Linked DNA regions of Homo sapiens: regions 2, 3 and 4 are each linked to region 1. The links come from fine-mapping of genetic effects on gene expression. A gene starts in region 1. Each other region holds a variant in brackets. All regions are shown on one strand. Distances are between the middles of the regions. Region 1 holds the start of CCDC191 (coiled-coil domain containing 191). Region 2 overlaps CCDC191 (coiled-coil domain containing 191). Region 3 holds the start of LOC105374048 (a long non-coding RNA gene). Region 4 overlaps CCDC191 (coiled-coil domain containing 191).

Region 1 (4,172 bases):
ACCTAAGGTCAGGAGTTCGAGACCAGCCAGGCCAACATGGTGAAACCGTCTCTACTAAAAACACAAAAATCAGCCAGGTGTAGCAGCACATGCCTGTAATACCAGCTACTCCGGAGGCTGAGACAGGAGAATCACTTGAACCCAGGAGGCAGAGGTTGCAGTGAGCCAAAATCATGCCACTGCAGTCCAGCCTGGGTAACAAAGCAAGATGCCGTCTCAAAAAAAAGAAATGAAGAACGCTACAATTCTAGAAAACAGTAAATGAAGATTTTTCCAAGGCATTCGGAAATCGTTACACCATTTGGTAGGGGGAAAGAGATAACGACGACGTTAAACTTTGTTGAGTATGTGTGTTAAAAATTCAGAAGTAACTGTTAAACGATTAATGACAGAATGCATAATTTCCAAACTCACTGGAGAGGGAAGTGGGAAGATAAAGAAAAATGAATTAACCTAATAAAAGGCAAGAAAGGAAAAGAGACCAAAAAAAAGAAATAGAAAACACAAAATAAGATGGTAGAATTCCAAATGTCAGTAATCACAATAAAAGTTAAATTAATTTCACATATAGAAAGACAATAATAGCAACTAACATTTATCGGGTATTTACTATGTATTAAGCACTGTTCTTTATATATTCACTCCATTAATCCTCAGATCAAATGCATAATATAGATACCATTATTATCTGCATTTTATGTATGATAAACTGAGGCTGATAAAATCCCCAGCTGGTAAGTGGCAGAGCAAGGACTTTAATTATTGAAGTCTAGTTTTCAGCGCTGTACTCTAATAGGCTGGGAGCTTATTAGAAGTTCCATCTGGTACACAAGCACATTATAATCTTAGTTTCCATTTTGCTATAGTGTTCTTCTTCTTTTCCCTTTCTCCCTCCCGCCTCTAATCCATCCTCCCAGTCTCTGCAATCTTTCTCCATTCTCATACAAATATTTAAACATACTTGCATATGGGAGGGAGTGTTTTGGTCAGGGTTTGCTTTTACAAAAATGGAAACATATTATACTATAATATATGCACTTCTCTGCAATTTGCTTTTCTCTCAAGAATAAACATTAGACGTCTTTCCTGAAGAAGAGACATAAAGCTAACTTACCCTTTTGAAAAAAACTACTTCGTGGTACTGCATAGTTTGTATGAGCACAATTTATTCAACCGCCTTTCAGACAGACCAGTTACAGAGCTGGTCCTAGGATCGCTGCAACAGTCCGAGGGCATAGCTTCCCTAACTTCATTTTCACCAATTTCAAATCAACTTTAGTTTACATTTCCTGGCAGAATGCTTCACATACATTTATTTTTAATCATTACAACACTCCAGTGATTCAGGTATTATCGTCCCCATTTTGCATGAGAAAACAGGGTCTCTGAGTTATTAAACAAGTTGCCTAGGGTCATATAGCCACAAAGTAGTTGAATTCAAAACTCCTGTTCTAAATCTTTACTCTGCTTTATAAGCCCATTTATCACCCCTAAATGGGCTGTCTCTGGAAACACCTCGGCTAAGCCAATAAGCCTGGATTTATCTTTGCTCCATGGGCCATCTCCATGGCCCCAGACCTCCCTAGGCACCTGGCTCAGAGATTGAAGACGGTCCCACCCTCCCATGGGCAGTTCGGAATAAAAACTTCCTGAAAACTCTACCTTTCAGCAGAGGCTAGTCGAAAGGGGCCCTTTTATCTCAGAGGTGTCGGCGACGCTCACACGATTTATGAGAATCTGAACTTACAGAAACCAATCCACCAGGACACCCTGAAAAGGGAAGCAGAGGAGACATGGCGGGAGTACAATCACCGTTACTGCAACACAACCAGGAAGCGTCTGGACGCGACGTGACTCATCCATCTCTAGCAGCTCCCACACCAGCAGGGCAAAGGGGCACTTACCTGCCAACAAACCATTCGACTCTTTCAGTCTTCAGACCCCTCAAACTCCTCACAGTTCACTACCACGTGTTGCAAAATTCTCTGCCCCAAAATCACTGCCTCCAGTGCAGAGCCAATCAGGGAGTACTGCGTCATCACTGGGCGCCAGAAAAAAAGCAAAGCCGACATTCAAGCGAGCCTTGATGACGGCAAGAGCGAGGGACCTCTGCCGTTGCTATGGTAACTGAGCCAACGCGAGCGGCCTGCGCAGAGCCTCGTGGGAGTGGTGGTTCGACGGTGTCCTATGCCTGCTTTCCTTGCGGGCGGAGGAACTACAATTCCCAGCGTGACCCGGAGGCAGCCCGGGCAGAAGGGCGGTTGCTGCAGCTTTGGCCGAGGTTCGGGCTCGAACTTGGAAAATGCTCCTGGCGCCTCAGGGAAGGTCCTTCTCAAAGAAAAGGATGGGGCTGAATCGCTGGAAACGGTTCACAAGGAAGCCGAGTCCCAAGGTGATCCCAATCGAGAGCTTTGGAGGGCGGGGACTTTCCCAAGGCGCGGCGCAGTCAGGAAGCCAGTCGCGGCCCGTCTGTGCTTCCTGCCTCTTCATCCTGAGCTGACACGCCCCTGCCTTGACCGCCCCAAAGCCAGCATTACCCTGAGTGAAATGCTCTAGGAGCTCTGGGGTCTGGGCACATTACGGCTTTGGTGGGCAGCATCGTGGAAGAACTGTTTGTAACGCTTTTCTAAAACCGGAGGTGTCTGCTAATGCCCATCGGGGTGAAAGGAGTTTGCAAACTCCGTTCCCCCTACCTTAAATTTTAGGAAACTTCTCGCACATTTCTTTCTTTTTCTCTCTCTTTTTTTTTTTTTGCAAATCTTGGGGTAATTGATCTTTATTAACGGGAGAGAGCTTCACATTAAATACCCTGCCTATATTCCTGCCCCTTCACTTTTACGTAAAGTATCTAAATAAACTCAGGAGTGCAAATGGATATTGAATACATTAATACTTGATTCACATAGTAATTTCTAAATTCAACCAACTTTCAAAAAATAGATTCTCTCCGTATCTATCACCCATTTGGATGCATTAGCACCTGAAGATAAGAAAAAAATAATAACCCCATTTTAAACTTGAAACATATGTGACATGTGCAAAGTCACAGTTGCACCGTGTGCTTTCCACAGACTACCTTTTTAACAGTCCCCAAAAAGATGCTTAAAATCTAAATGAGAGTACTAAAATGGAGAAGCTTCTCAGCTTTCAGCTACAGAGCAGTTTCACCAGCTGTTTTCACCCTTAAGTTATACTTTCCTAAATAATATTCTGTAGATGTATGTGGCCTTTTTGAGGGCCCCAGGCGATTGTTCTTGCGATTTATTCTAAATTTACCAGCTAAATGCATTGGACATATTCCACATGACAAATATGTTGCCCTAGATACTAGAGGGCACAGACTGAAGCATCAGGGAGACTTGGAAACTGAGGCTGCTGCTATTTCAATACATCAGTTGCATAATGTATTGGATCCAAGATAGGATATAGATATGGACTTGATGATGAAAGGTAAAAATTTAGAATAATTTCTTAGGACTCCAAAAGGAAGGATTTTTGCTGCTAGTGCTCATTATTACTGCCTAGAGAAAAAAAGGTAAAAACATAGGGCTTCTTCAAGTTCAGTTGTATTTTAATTAGATCAGCTCTTTCTTTGTTGCAGTGACAAAATTATTAAGCAGTACAGCTGCGTTAGTTATCAGTAAGATGCTTTGAAGGTAAAGTGTTAGGTAAGTGAAAGAGTATTATATTTTTCCCACCTCCATGTGTCAGTATGCTAGTTTAGATATCCCCTTATTTTATTATTATTATTATTATTATTATTTTAAAGAGTATATTTGAGTAAGAAGCAATTCATGAACTGGGAACGCCAAACCAAAAGAGATTTAGTGCTCCAATGACAAATCATCAGGATATCCCCTTATTTTAAAAACACACCTGAATTTTTAGTGAAGAAGATAACTCTATTTGTTAAGTGACTATTAGAGGGAATTCTGCAAGCTTCTGGGAGTTTCAGAGGTTGAAGAAAGGAAATGTCCTGATAGTTTTACTTCTAATTTCAGATTAATACCTGACTGATCTGGGTGGAAATTTATATTTTCTGCTTTGTAAAACAGTAAAAGTCAGATTGATTAACCCTCGCCCCATTCCCCAGTTTTTGTTGTTGTTGTTGTTTGTTTGTTTGTTTGTTTTTGAGACAGAGTCTCGCTCTGTCGCCCAGGCTGGAGCGCAGT
Region 2 (4,172 bases), 24 kb after region 1:
ATAATTGAGAGGAGACGCACTGTGAAAGCAGCATGGAAAATGTAAGCCAGTGTGATAAGCACTGTGGGGTTTCTCTGTTTAAGCAGTCATTTTAGAAATGCTCTGAAGTTTTTGAAGTGCACAAACATTCAATAACAAAACATAGAAGAGAAATCACTCACTATTCCACCATCTTAACAAATTAACTAATTTCATATTTCCATGTTCCTCCTGACGTGGTCCCTTTCCATACTTAATTATACAACCATAAAGTACATTTAATTTGTAATTCTGCTTGTTGTAATTAACACATTGCCTGGAGTCCTGGGATGTGTATAATACTCCATTGAGTTCCTATACCATAATTTATGTAATGACCACCTCCCCATACTGGTAAATGTTTCAGCTATTTTGGATTTTTCACCATTATAAGATTGCAATGAGCATCTTTAAGCATAGAGTTTTTTCACTCTTTTGTATTATATTCTTAGAATAAATTCTTAGCATAATTTCTGAGTTAAATGACACAGGTCTTTTTCTGACTCTTGAAACATTGCCAAATTGCTTTCAAAATGGGTTGTTTTGCTGATGATACTTGTTTACTGTATCATCAGCAGCAGGCCAGTTTATCATACTCTTCTCAGCCTTAGGGAGTATCATCATTTTCAATATTTTTACACTTTTAATAGGTATTACATTGATTAGTTTGCATTTCTTTGGTTAGATAATATTTTTAAGGTTGAACATGTTCAGTAATTGTGTCTTATCCTGTTGTGAATTGTGTGTCTTATTTTCTGATAAACATATGGAAAGTCACCACTGCCTTACTACCACTGATAAAGAAAAAGAATATCTGACATAAGAGGAAGATGAAAATAGTCCTCACAGGATGTAGTACTATTATCCATCCTCATGCAGAAAATGAGCTTCATAAGTGAAATAACTAATGTATTTATTCTGAGAAACAGCACTGATGCAGGAACTGCAAAAGCCTTGGAACAGCATGACTGAAGTGTCTGACTACTCGAACTGAGAGGCCACAAAGACCTATTAGATAATCCCTTCCACCCCCATCAGCCTACACAGCTTTCCCCCCTGTGCTCTTGATTGCTCTTATTCTACCCAGTTTAAAACAGCTCAGCAGTGGACATGTGCTTTACTTCTTCAAGTGCCAGGCTGAGGCTTCCTCCAGATGCCATTCCTTTCAGAAAGCAATCACTGGTGTTTTAGTGAGTTCTTTCTAAGGTCAGCCTTGCTTTTCATATTGCTCCCAAGCCCTGGAAAAACTAGGTTGACCTAAAATAAATTGTGAAAACAAGTAACGTTTAATGGTAGTAGGATGCTCTGCTCACAGTGGGCACTCAACAAATGTTCACTGACCAGTCATTTATTTTAAAAGTTAAGATCTTATCCATGGTTACAGTGAGATAGGTAATATGTTCTACTTCTGGGTGGATGAACTGATTTAAACTTTCCAGAAAGCAATTTGGCAGTAAACAACAAGAGCCGTAAAATAGTATTATCCCTTGACCTAGGAATTACAGCCTTAGGAAAACTGCCCTAAGAAAATTATCAGAAATCCAGACAAAGATTTGTGCAGAAAGATAATTTAAACAACATTATTTATAATAACAGACTTTCGTAAATATTGGAGAAATTGCTAAGTCATGGCTGTACAATGAAACAGGACTGACTTTTTTTCTGGGTAGAAATATGGATGGCTTTTATGGGCGTGGTGGCACACACCTGTAACCCCAGCTACTCGGGAGGCTGAGGCAGGAGAATCGCCTGAACCCAGGAGGCAGAGGTTGCAGTGAGCCGAGATCATGCCACTGCACTCCAGCCTGAGTGACAGA[G/A]TGAGTGAGACTCCATCGCAAACAGAAAATAAAAAAAAAAAAAAGAAATATGGATGACTTTTATACTTCTCCAGTTTTTCACAATGAGCATATATTTCTTTTAAAATAGATATATATTCTAATGTTATTTTAAAAAATCAGTTTCATGGTATTAGAACTGTATTTCTTTGACAATCACTATCACCTGTCTATAACCATGTAATATAACATTGTTATGGCATTCATAGTTTGGAAAAAGTCAATAACATTTTTATTGTTGATAGGCCTTTTGAACCTATTTGTAAGCTATCTTAAATCTGCCTCATTGCCTAGTTTTAAAGTTATCTCTTTCAAGATGCTTATTAATTTCAAAGGGAAAAATAATAACTCTATACTGGAGAAGCCACCTTAAGCAAGTGATGAAGGTTAACATTACCAATAATACAACATAACACTGTGTACCCTCTGTAACATATATGAGAATGAGTGAGAGAAGGGGTAGGGTACTCTGGCATCTTTCTCCATTTTAGTTTCCACAACTGTGAACTAAAAGTTCAAGAAAGATCAGGTGACTAGCTGGTTTGTGGCCAGAGCTCATGAGTTCTGATTCCTGACTAGGTGCTATGTTTACCACATCATTAATAATATATACTTTATACACATACATATACCTGTGCAGTTAAATGCACTACAGTAGGAAGGCCATAGCTATGAGCTTGTTTGAATTGGTGAGCAAAAGAGGGATGGCCTGGATGAGGAAGAATAGATAGGTGGGCAAAAAAGAGGATGCTCAGAAAGATGAGCAACAAAGTTACTAAAATAATTCTGGTTACTTGCCTAAAGTCCTTTTCCTTTTTAAGTTCTATTTTTTTCTCTTTTCAGCTATTTTAAAATTATTCTAGATTCCATTCCCTCCTTATTCAATAACACCTGATTCTTTTGTTATTCCTCTTTCTAGTAACCTTATAAGAGGCCTTTTAGTAAGAATCTCATTCCTTTCTTGAGAATCCTTTTTTTCTCGTTCTATGGGAGATAATTTATGTCTATATTAGAGACTATCTTGTAGTTGTTAACTCTCAAATTTTGATCAAAGTATGGCTCAGTGTGCAACTCAATAAAAATACTAAAGTATCTATAAGACTTTCTACTTTTCAAAGTACTTTATAACAATTTTATTTCATTTAATCTGTATTTTATAAAGGAATAAAATAAGTCTCCAAAAAAATTACCCTACTATGTAGTTTTAGAGCCAGATCTAAAAATATGTGTATTCCGAAGGAGAATTCAGTGATTATTCTGCTACAGTAGGTTGTAATTGCTCATTTTTAAATCTATTGTAAATATACATGTATTTTTAAATTGTTATTAATAGAGAGAAGAAAAGGCAAGAAGAGAATTCTCAAAATAGTTCAGAAAAAGTCATGTTTCAAAGTACTCACATTCTTCCAGATGAGGAAAAAATGGTGAAGGAAAGAAAAAGGAAATTGAAAGAAGTATTAATCCAAACTTTCAAAGAAAATCAACAGGTGGGAATTGCAATGTCTCTTTACTCAGCATTCTGTAGTATAAATGACAAAGAGCTCCATCAGAGATGGGATAAAATAAAAACTAAGTCCAGTTGAACCTCATCACAAATACCAAAACTGCCCACGCCATTTGTTCTTTGTGCCCAGCTGACCTGGTATGCAGGGCAGTACACAAATCCCCTGTTCTGAGGCTATTCTTTGTATACTCTGGTGGGATCCTGGGAAATTACTGGGGTGAGGGGGGTAAATTGTGGACTTCTTCCTAAATTACCTCTTCAGAATAGCATTTAACTATTATTAACCTTAAACTAAGGTAGCTCTCTGGCAGTTTTTGAAATCTTGGCTTCCACTTTGACAGTTGTAAGGACCATTGTGTTCTGGATTATTCAGAAGATACAAGAACTGGTTACTTGCCTTTTAGTAGCTCTGATCCTAAAGCAATGATACACTTAAACCTGTGCTTTTCTTTTTAATGGTCTATATTTTATTTTACCTTTTCTTCCTTTCTTTCACTTTATCTTTTTGTAAAAATTACTTGCTGATTTTTAATATAAAAGTGAATATCCTCTTCAGGTTACTTAAGCAGTTTTCTTCAATAAAGTGGGATTGATAAAAGTATGAATTTTGGGATTATAACATTTCAGGTAAAAGGACTGACTGGGCAGATTTGTAAATGAGAGGGTTAGATGAGAAAAGATAAATATGTATATTTTACATATCCTACAACACCCACCCCAGGGCCTTAGGCATTGCTGAAATTCAGAGAAAGTTAATTGAATAAATACGTGAATGAATGGATTTAGCAAGAGAAAAGAGAATGTTAGGAAGATAC
Region 3 (4,172 bases), 55 kb after region 1:
TAAATACCCAGTTAAGTATGATTATTTTTTTAAAATTATTGTTTGGTCAAGGAGTTAGCTATTTTAGAAGCCCAGTCTACTTTCAAGTAGTCTTTTGATGATTAGATCTAGAAAAGATGGGCAAAGGGCATATTACCAGAGACTCTGCTTCTTAGGGGTCTCTTACTTTAATCCCCTAGTCTATTTCTGCCTTCTTAGAGACAATTTCACTCTCGCCATCTGTGGCACTACCATTCTTTTTCAGCAAAGCAGACACTTAATAACTGTAAGAAATAGCCTGGTGAGTTTTTTGTTTATTAATTCTTAAAACTTGGACTTAAATTCTTTTCTCTAAAATATGGCACAAGGAACTGAAAGTAACTATTGGCTGGCTTAGGTGAGCAGAACTTGATACTCCTCCCATCCATGCCCCTCTTCCTATGAAAGCCCCAACTGATTATAGAGTCATATTATCAGACCATCTTGCACATTTGTTTCTTTTGGATCGATATTTAATAGCCTGTCAAGAACAGGAGTCTGACACTCAAATTCATTCAGATGCCAGTTCTCCAAATGCCTGGTACAATTCCATTTCCTGCCCATCTGTATATCCAGGCCTTAAAACTAGATTCAAATATATTCATCGTGACCCCAAACTTTAGTTTGTTTGTTGTTATTCTTATATATACAGACATATGTACAGTGACTTAAGAAAAATTAGCAGATTCAATAGGATTTGAGGAACGATTCTACTCTCAAAGTACTTGTTAGATGTAATTAAAGTTTTCTGCATTCATCAAACATATAATCAAATTAGAATTCTGGTTTCTGGGTTTCATATACTAAAAGTATCATCAAGGCACATTATAAATCAGTAAACAATTATTTTAATAAAAATGTAAACAAAATAATTAATTTATAAATTGTTCCTCATTGCTGAGGATGGGATAATAGGTCTTTAACCTGTAGAGTATATAAGTTCTGTTTATCTCTATATATTTTCTGAGATTGTGAACATTCAACTTACAAGAAAACCCTAATAATAACACTAAATTTTACTATGAAATGGAGACATTTCTCTTGCAGTATTCCTCATATTTTTTCAATATAAAAAATATTAGAACTCTGTTACTATTTTCTAGCTATGGAAGAGAGAGCAATTCAACGAGCTGAATGTAGGCGGATCTTGGCAGAGAAGAAGAAAAAACAAGAAGAAGAAAAATTGGTAATAGATTCAAAATGCAAACTGAGTCAAAAAAGAAGGATTTGTCCAGGTCTTTCTTAAAAAATGAAACCTTGCTTTTTCAGAACTCCTGAGACAATAGAGTTACATCAACTTTGGAAATGGTTTTTTGGCCTAGTGGCCTGAATTCCGTGACAATTTTAGGAAAATAAGGGGGACAGAAACATCAACATCATTAACACAGCAGGAAGAAAATGTTATGAAAGTTGATGAGAGTCAGCAGATTAGAAGATTTACACATAACCAAGATTAGTGTATTATAGGTAGATGTCTGACCTACTGAATTTGCAAAGAGGGATAGTTCTTATTTTCCAAAGTTTTGACCTAGACTATCCAAAGTAAATTTTGTAACTACCAAGAAAAAATAAACAGTTCCAACAATTGGGGGTTTTCTGGTGAAATGAAAGAAAACCTTTTTCCCCCTAAACTGTTTCTAACTTGGAGTTAGTTTTTCACAGATGACAGTAAGAAC[T/G]AAAAAGTAATCATTTTTTAATGAAAGATTGGTGATCTTATTTATGATCAGTCTTACCTTCCCAAGTAGAAAAGGATTCTTTTGGAGAAACTTTTAAGTTACGTAACTGATGACAGGTTGATTGAGTTTTCTACTTTTATCACAAAATGCAGACTTCTTCCAGAGATAGGACAGGCACTTTGGTAGACGCTTGACTATCCTAAACATAAAAGATCACATTTCTGTTCAAATTGAGGGTTCTGATATTTCTGGGTTCTAATCTCAATCAGGCCCAGTTAAAGGCCCAAGAGGAGGAACGTCAGAAAAGGGAGGCAGAAGAAAAGGAGGCACAGCTTGAAAGAAAACGAGAAGAGAAGAGACTGAAGAAAATGGTTAGTATTGTCTATTTGGTCAGTCCCTGTATCTTGAGGTTTGCTGTGTGTGATACTGTGGCCCTATCCACCTTCTTTAACCCAGAACTTCTATCTGGAATACTCTTCTCTCACCCTCACTTCTTTTCTCTATCTTACTTAGTGAAAAGCTACTCATTCTTCAGATTTCAGCTAAAACAGAACTTTGTCCAGATTAGCCTTTCCTGCCCTGCCCACCCTCCTCTCCACTCAGAATTAGGTTGGGTCCCCCTTTGTGGACTCTCATCAAGTATCTTCCCTTCAGAACATTATTGACAGTTATCATTGTGCATTTGTTTTATGGCTGTTTTATTCATTTCTACATCCCCAACTAAACTGTGATCTCCATAAGGGTTAAGGGAACAGTCTGATGTTGTTCACTATTGTATTGGCACCCAGCAGATATGTGTTTAATGAGTGAATAAATGAATGAACAAATGGAAGAAGAAGTGATAATACACAAAGAAATAATAATACACACAGAAGAAATAAGAGAAAAAGCTCTTACTCTAAGGTTATTAAATTCTGCTTGGGAAGATAAGGCCTAAAAATACAAACGTGTCAGAGACACTGTAGTAGAGTATTTGACATCATGTGCTACATAGACGAAAAGAGATCAAGGGGCCAGACATTGTGGCTCACACCTGTAATCCCAGAACTTTTGGGAGGCTGAGGTGGGAGGATTGCTTGAGCCCAGGAGTTTGAGACTAGCCTGGGCAAGATGTTAAGACCCTGCCTCGATAAAAAAAAAATTTTAATCATCTGGGCGCAGTGACACCTGCCTATAATCACCAGCTACTTGGGAGGCTAAGGCAGGAGGAATCCTTGAGCCCAGGAGTTCGAGGCAGCAGTGAGCTGTCATTGTGCCACTGAGCTCCAACCCGGGCAGCAAAGTAAGACCATCTCTAAGAAAAAAAAAGAGAGAGAGAGAGATCAAGAAAGTCATATAAGGTATGTTTCATGAAGAATTTGGAGAAATTAGAAGTATTTTCATGAAAAGGAAATTTGAATGGAGAATTGTATTAGTCAGGATTCTCCAGAAAAAGAGAACCAGTAGGACATATAGACAGAGGGAGACTTATTTTGAGAAATTGGCTCACGCAATTATGGAAGCTGAGAAGTCTCATGATCTGCCATCTGCCATCTGGAGACCCAAGAAACCCAGTGGTGTAATTCCAGTTCAAGTCTGAAGGCTCAGAATCAGGGGAGTTGATGGCATAAATCTCAGTCAAAGAGCAAGAGAAGACCAATATCCCAGCTCCAGATGGGAGGCAGGAAGCAAAAAGGGGCAAATTCTTCCTTCCTCCTCCTTTTTGAAAGTTCTATTCAGGCTCTCAGCAGATTGGATGATGCCCACCAACATTAGTGAGGGCAATCTACTTTACTAAGGCCACCAACTCAAATGCTAATCTTATCGAGAGACATCCTTAAAGACACATCCAAAAATAATGTTTAATCTAGCACCCCATGGTATAGTCAAGTTGACACATAAAATTAGCCATCACAAGTCCACCCCTTGTCAACATGGCACCCATGCACATCTCCTTAAACCGTAGTTAATCTGCAAATAAAGACAATAGCACGATCATAATTCCACCTAACATGATACAACTATCCAGCATACAACTAAAAACATACTAAACCATTCCTCAGAAGAGGAGGTAAAGTCCTTGTGTGATGTTTACTCTTCTCCATGATATCCCATAACTTAAATACTTAAATAACTTAAATAGCATAAATGATATAATATTAGTAACTTAAATACTGTGATAGAAAGTTACAGTATAAAAGAATAAGAGGAAAGAAAATGCACAAATGTATTCATAGCAAAATAAGGAGAAAATACTCATGACACAGTTTTTGTTTCTACAACTGGTTACATGGTCGTAACTGGTATTTATAAATACCTTCTTCCACTACCCCTCCATATTCCCCTTGCCTTCAGCAAGCACCTCAGCTGCTTGTGATTCTCTACCCAACAGGTGACCCAAACCTTCATTCCTAAAGTCACAGCAACATTCATAGTCCTGCCTGGATTAGGTTGTAGTTTTCCATTTACTCTAATTACAGGACAATGTTAATACTAAGA
Region 4 (4,172 bases), 85 kb after region 1:
AGAAAAAAGAAAAAAAAAAAACCTGCCATCCAAGAATACTGTATCCAGCAAAGCCATCTTTCAAATATGAAGGATAGAGAAAGTTTTTCTCAGAAAAACAAATGCTGAGAGAATTCACCACCACCAGACCCATCTTACAAGAAATGTTAAAGGGAGTTCTTCAATCTGAAAGAAAAAAACACTAACACAAAAAGAAAACAGTTGACAGTAGAAAACCTACTGATAAAATTAAGTACATGAACAAACCCAGAATACTCTAATACTGTAATTGTGGTGTGCAATCAACTCATAACTCTAGTATGAAGCCAGAAAGACACATCTAGCAAAAACAGTAATAGCTACAGCAGCCTGCTAAGAGGTAATATAAAACATGGAAACTAAAACAAGAAAAAGTCAAAATGTTGGGGGATTTCTAAAAAGAAAAGGCAAGAAATTAAAACATACTACCTGAGAAAATCGTTTTGCCACAAGGGAAAACAGTAAGAAAGGAAGACAGGAGTTACAAAACAACCAGCAAACAAGGAAAGAAAAAATTGCCATAGTAAGTCCTTACTTATCAATAACTGAATATAAATGGACTCAGTTCTCCAATTAAAAGACATAGAGTGGCTGATGGATAAAGAAACAAGATCCAACTGTATGCTGCCTATAAGACACCTACTTCACCTGTAAAGACATACATAGACTGAAAGAGATAGAAAAAGACATTCCAAGCAAGTAGAAACCAAAAACACAGCAGGAATAGCTATACTTATATCAGATAAAACTGACTACAAGTCAAAGACTATAAAGAGAAATAAAGAAAGGTCATTATATAATGATAAAGAGGTCAATTCAGCAAGAGGATATAACAATTATAAATATCTATGCACTCAACATCAAGCACCCAAGTATATAAAGCAAACAATAAAGGGAGAGATAACTGCAATACAATCATAGGGGACTTCAACACGCCACTCTCAGTAGTGGACAAATTATCCAGAAGAAAATCAGCAAGGAAACATCAAACTTAAACCAGAAACCAGGCCAAATAGGTCTGACATTTAAAGAATATTTTATCCAGCTGTTGAAGAATACACATTCTTTTTATCAGCACATGGAACATCCTCCATAATAAGACCATATCTTAGGCCACAAAACAACTCTCAACAAATTCAAAAAACAGAAATTGTATCAAGTATCTATTCTGACCACAATAGAATAAAATTAGGAATCAGTAAGAGGAACTTCAGAAGCTACACAGATAGAAGGAAATTAAACAACATGCTCCTGAACAACCAATGGGTCAATGAAGAAATTAAGAAAAAATTTAAAAATTTCTTGAAACCAATGAAAATGGAAATATCATAGATCAAAATCTATAGGTTATAGTAAAAGCAGTAACTTCTTTTAAGAGAGAAGTTTATAGCAATAAACACATCAAAAAAGTTGACAGACTTCAAAAAATAAGTCAACTATGCTCCTCAAGGAAATATAGAAAAGCAAGAACAAACCAAACCCCAAATTATTAGAAGAAAGGAAATAATATAAATCTAAGCAGAAATAAATGAATTGAGACTTTTTCTGACTCAAAATCAGAAATGAAAAAGGAGACATAACAACTGAGACATCAAAAATACAAAGAATCACTAGAGACTATTATGAACACCTATATATCAATAAACTGGAAAACATAGAAGAAATGGATAAATTTCTAGACAGATAAAACCTACCAAGATTGAATGATGAAGAAACAGAAAACCTCAACAAACCACTAATAAGTAATGAGATTGAAGCTGTAATTAAAAAGTCTCACCTAAAAGAAAAGCCCAGGTCCTAATGGCTTCAAACTGCTAAATTGTACCAAACTTTTAAAGAAGAACTAATACAAATTCTACTCAATTTCTTCAAAAAAAAACTGAAGAGGAGGGAATACTTCCATACTTATTCTATCAGGCCAGCATTAGCCTGATACCAAAACCAAACAAGGACATGATAAGAAAAAAGAAAACTACATATCCCTGATGAACACAAATGCAAAATCTTCAACCAAATACC[G/A]GCAAACCAAATTCAATAACACGTTGAAAAGAACATTCACCATGATCAAGTGGGATTTATCCCAGGGATCCAAGGATGGTTCAACTTATGCAAATCAATAAACATGATACATCACATTAACAGAACCAAGAACAAAAGCCATATAATTATTTCAAGAGATGTCCAAAAAGGCATTCAATAAAATTCAACATCTGTATGAACAGACACTTCTCAAAAGAAGACATTTATGCAGCCAAAAGACACAAGAAAAAATGCTCATCATCACTGGCCATCAGAGAAATGCAAATCAAAACCACAATGAGATACCATCTCACACCAGTTAGAATGGCGATCATTAAAAAGTCAGGAAACAACAGGTGCTGGAGAGGATGTGGAGAAATAGGAACACTTTTACACTGTTGGTGGGACTGTAAACTAGTTCAATCATTGTGGAAATCAGTGTGGTGATTCCTCAGGGATCTAGAACTAGAAATACCATTTGACCCACCCATCCCGTTACTGGGTATATACCCAAAGGATTATAAATCATGCTGCTATAAAGACACATGCACACATGTTTATTGCGGCACTATTCACAATAGCAAAGACTTGGAACCAACCCAAATGTCCAACAATGATAGACTGGATTAAGAAAATGTGGCACATATACACCATGGAATACTAAGCAGCCATAAAAAATGATGAGTTCATGTCCTTTGTAGGGACATGGATGAAGCTGGAAACCGTCATTCTCAGCAAACTATCGCAAGGACAAAAACCCAAACACCGCATGTTCTCACTCATAGGTGGGAATTGGACAATGAGAACACATGGACACAGGAAGGGGAACATCACACACCGGGGTCTGCTGTGGGGTGGGGGGACGGGGAGGGATAGCATTAGGAGATATACCTAATGTTAAATGATGAGTTAATGGGTGCAGCACACCAACATGACACATGTATACATATGTAACAAACCTGCATGTTGTGCACATGTACCCTAAAACTTAAAGTATAATAAAAAAGAAAAATCAACATCCTGGCCAGGACCAAAATGCCCACTTTCAGCACTTTTATTCAATATAATACTGCAAGTCCTTGCCAGAGCAGTTAGACAAGAGAAAAAAATAAGGGCATCCAGGCCAGATGTGATGGCTCATGGCTGTAATCCCAGGGCTTTGGGAGGCCACTATGGAAGGATCACTTGAGGCCAAGGGTTCAAGACCAGCCTGGGTGACAGAGAAACCCTGTCTTTAAAAAAAATGTATCCAAATTGAAAAGGAAGAAGCTAAATTAGCCTTGTTTACGGATGACATGCTCTTATACTTAGAAAAACCTAAAGACTCCACCAAAAAAAACTGTTAGATCTGACAAACAAATTCAGTAAAGTTGCAGCATACAAAATCAACATTCAAAAATCAGCAGCATTTATTAATATATACACCAACAGTGAACAATCTGAAAAAGAAGAAAACAATCCCACCTTAACTAGCTACAAAGAAAATAAAATACCTGGGAACCACTTTAACCAAGGAAGTGAAAGATCTATATACTGAGAACTATAAAACACTGAGGAAAGAAATTGAAGAGGACACAAACATATAGAAAGATATGCCATGCTCCTGCACTGGAAGACTTCTTATAGTTAAAATGGCAATACTACCCAAAGCAATTTACAGATTCAATGCAATCTCTATCAAAATACCAACAACATTCTTCACGGAAATAGAAAAAAAATTCCTAATATTTATATGAAACCACAGAAGACCCTGAATAGCCAAAGCAACACTAAGCAAAAAGAACAAAGCTCTAGGTATCACACTACCTGACTTCAAAATTTACTACAAAGCTATAGTAACCAAAACAGCTTGGTACTGGCATAAAAACAGGCATATAGACCAATGAAATAGAATAGAGAACCCAGATTTAAATCCACACATTTACAACCAACTCATCTTTGACAAAAGTGCCAAGAACATAAAATGGGGAAAGGACACTCTTTTAATAAATGGTGCTGGAAAAACAGGAGAACTATATGCAGAAGAATGAAATGAGACCCCTTTCTCTCACCATACACAAAAATCAAATCCAAATGGGTTACAGATTTAAATCTAAGTCCAGAAACTATGAGACTACTAGAAGAAAACATTGAGA

What was found. PIP is the estimated chance that this variant, and not a neighbour inherited with it, causes the effect.
Region 2: its variant is the best candidate, but not a certain one, in a credible set for the expression of CCDC191 in nasal epithelium (TOPMed, PIP 0.50).
Region 3: its variant is the best candidate, but not a certain one, in a credible set for the expression of CCDC191 in whole blood (INTERVAL, PIP 0.64).
Region 4: its variant is the best candidate, but not a certain one, in a credible set for the expression of CCDC191 in whole blood (INTERVAL, PIP 0.63).

What each region holds. Positions count from the first base shown.
Region 1 is chr3:114,054,597-114,058,768 of GRCh38, reverse strand. CCDC191 (coiled-coil domain containing 191) reads left to right here and starts at 2,243. Exons shown (of 17, transcript NM_020817.2): 1 at 2,243-2,392. The coding sequence starts at 2,303. QTRT2 (queuine tRNA-ribosyltransferase accessory subunit 2) reads right to left here and starts at 2,032. Exons shown (of 10, transcript NM_024638.4): 1 at 1,905-2,032; 2 at 1,663-1,770. RefSeq lists an enhancer at 2,092-2,501.
Region 2 is chr3:114,030,794-114,034,965 of GRCh38, reverse strand. It overlaps CCDC191 (coiled-coil domain containing 191), which reads left to right. Exons shown (of 17, transcript NM_020817.2): 6 at 1-41; 7 at 3,187-3,340. Among named protein-coding and RNA genes, the nearest start is that of CCDC191, 24 kb to the left of the region's middle. The variant G/A (reference allele first, on the strand shown) is at 1,836.
Region 3 is chr3:113,999,488-114,003,659 of GRCh38, reverse strand. CCDC191 (coiled-coil domain containing 191) reads left to right here. Exons shown (of 17, transcript NM_020817.2): 12 at 1,122-1,204; 13 at 1,964-2,065. It overlaps LOC105374048 (a long non-coding RNA gene), which reads right to left and starts at 1,971. Exons shown (of 3, transcript XR_924347.4): 1 at 1,752-1,971. The variant T/G (reference allele first, on the strand shown) is at 1,695.
Region 4 is chr3:113,969,446-113,973,617 of GRCh38, reverse strand. All of the region lies in intron 16 of CCDC191 (coiled-coil domain containing 191), which reads left to right. It also overlaps a transcript of ZDHHC23 not described here. Among named protein-coding and RNA genes, the nearest start is that of ZDHHC23, 24 kb to the right of the region's middle. The variant G/A (reference allele first, on the strand shown) is at 2,038.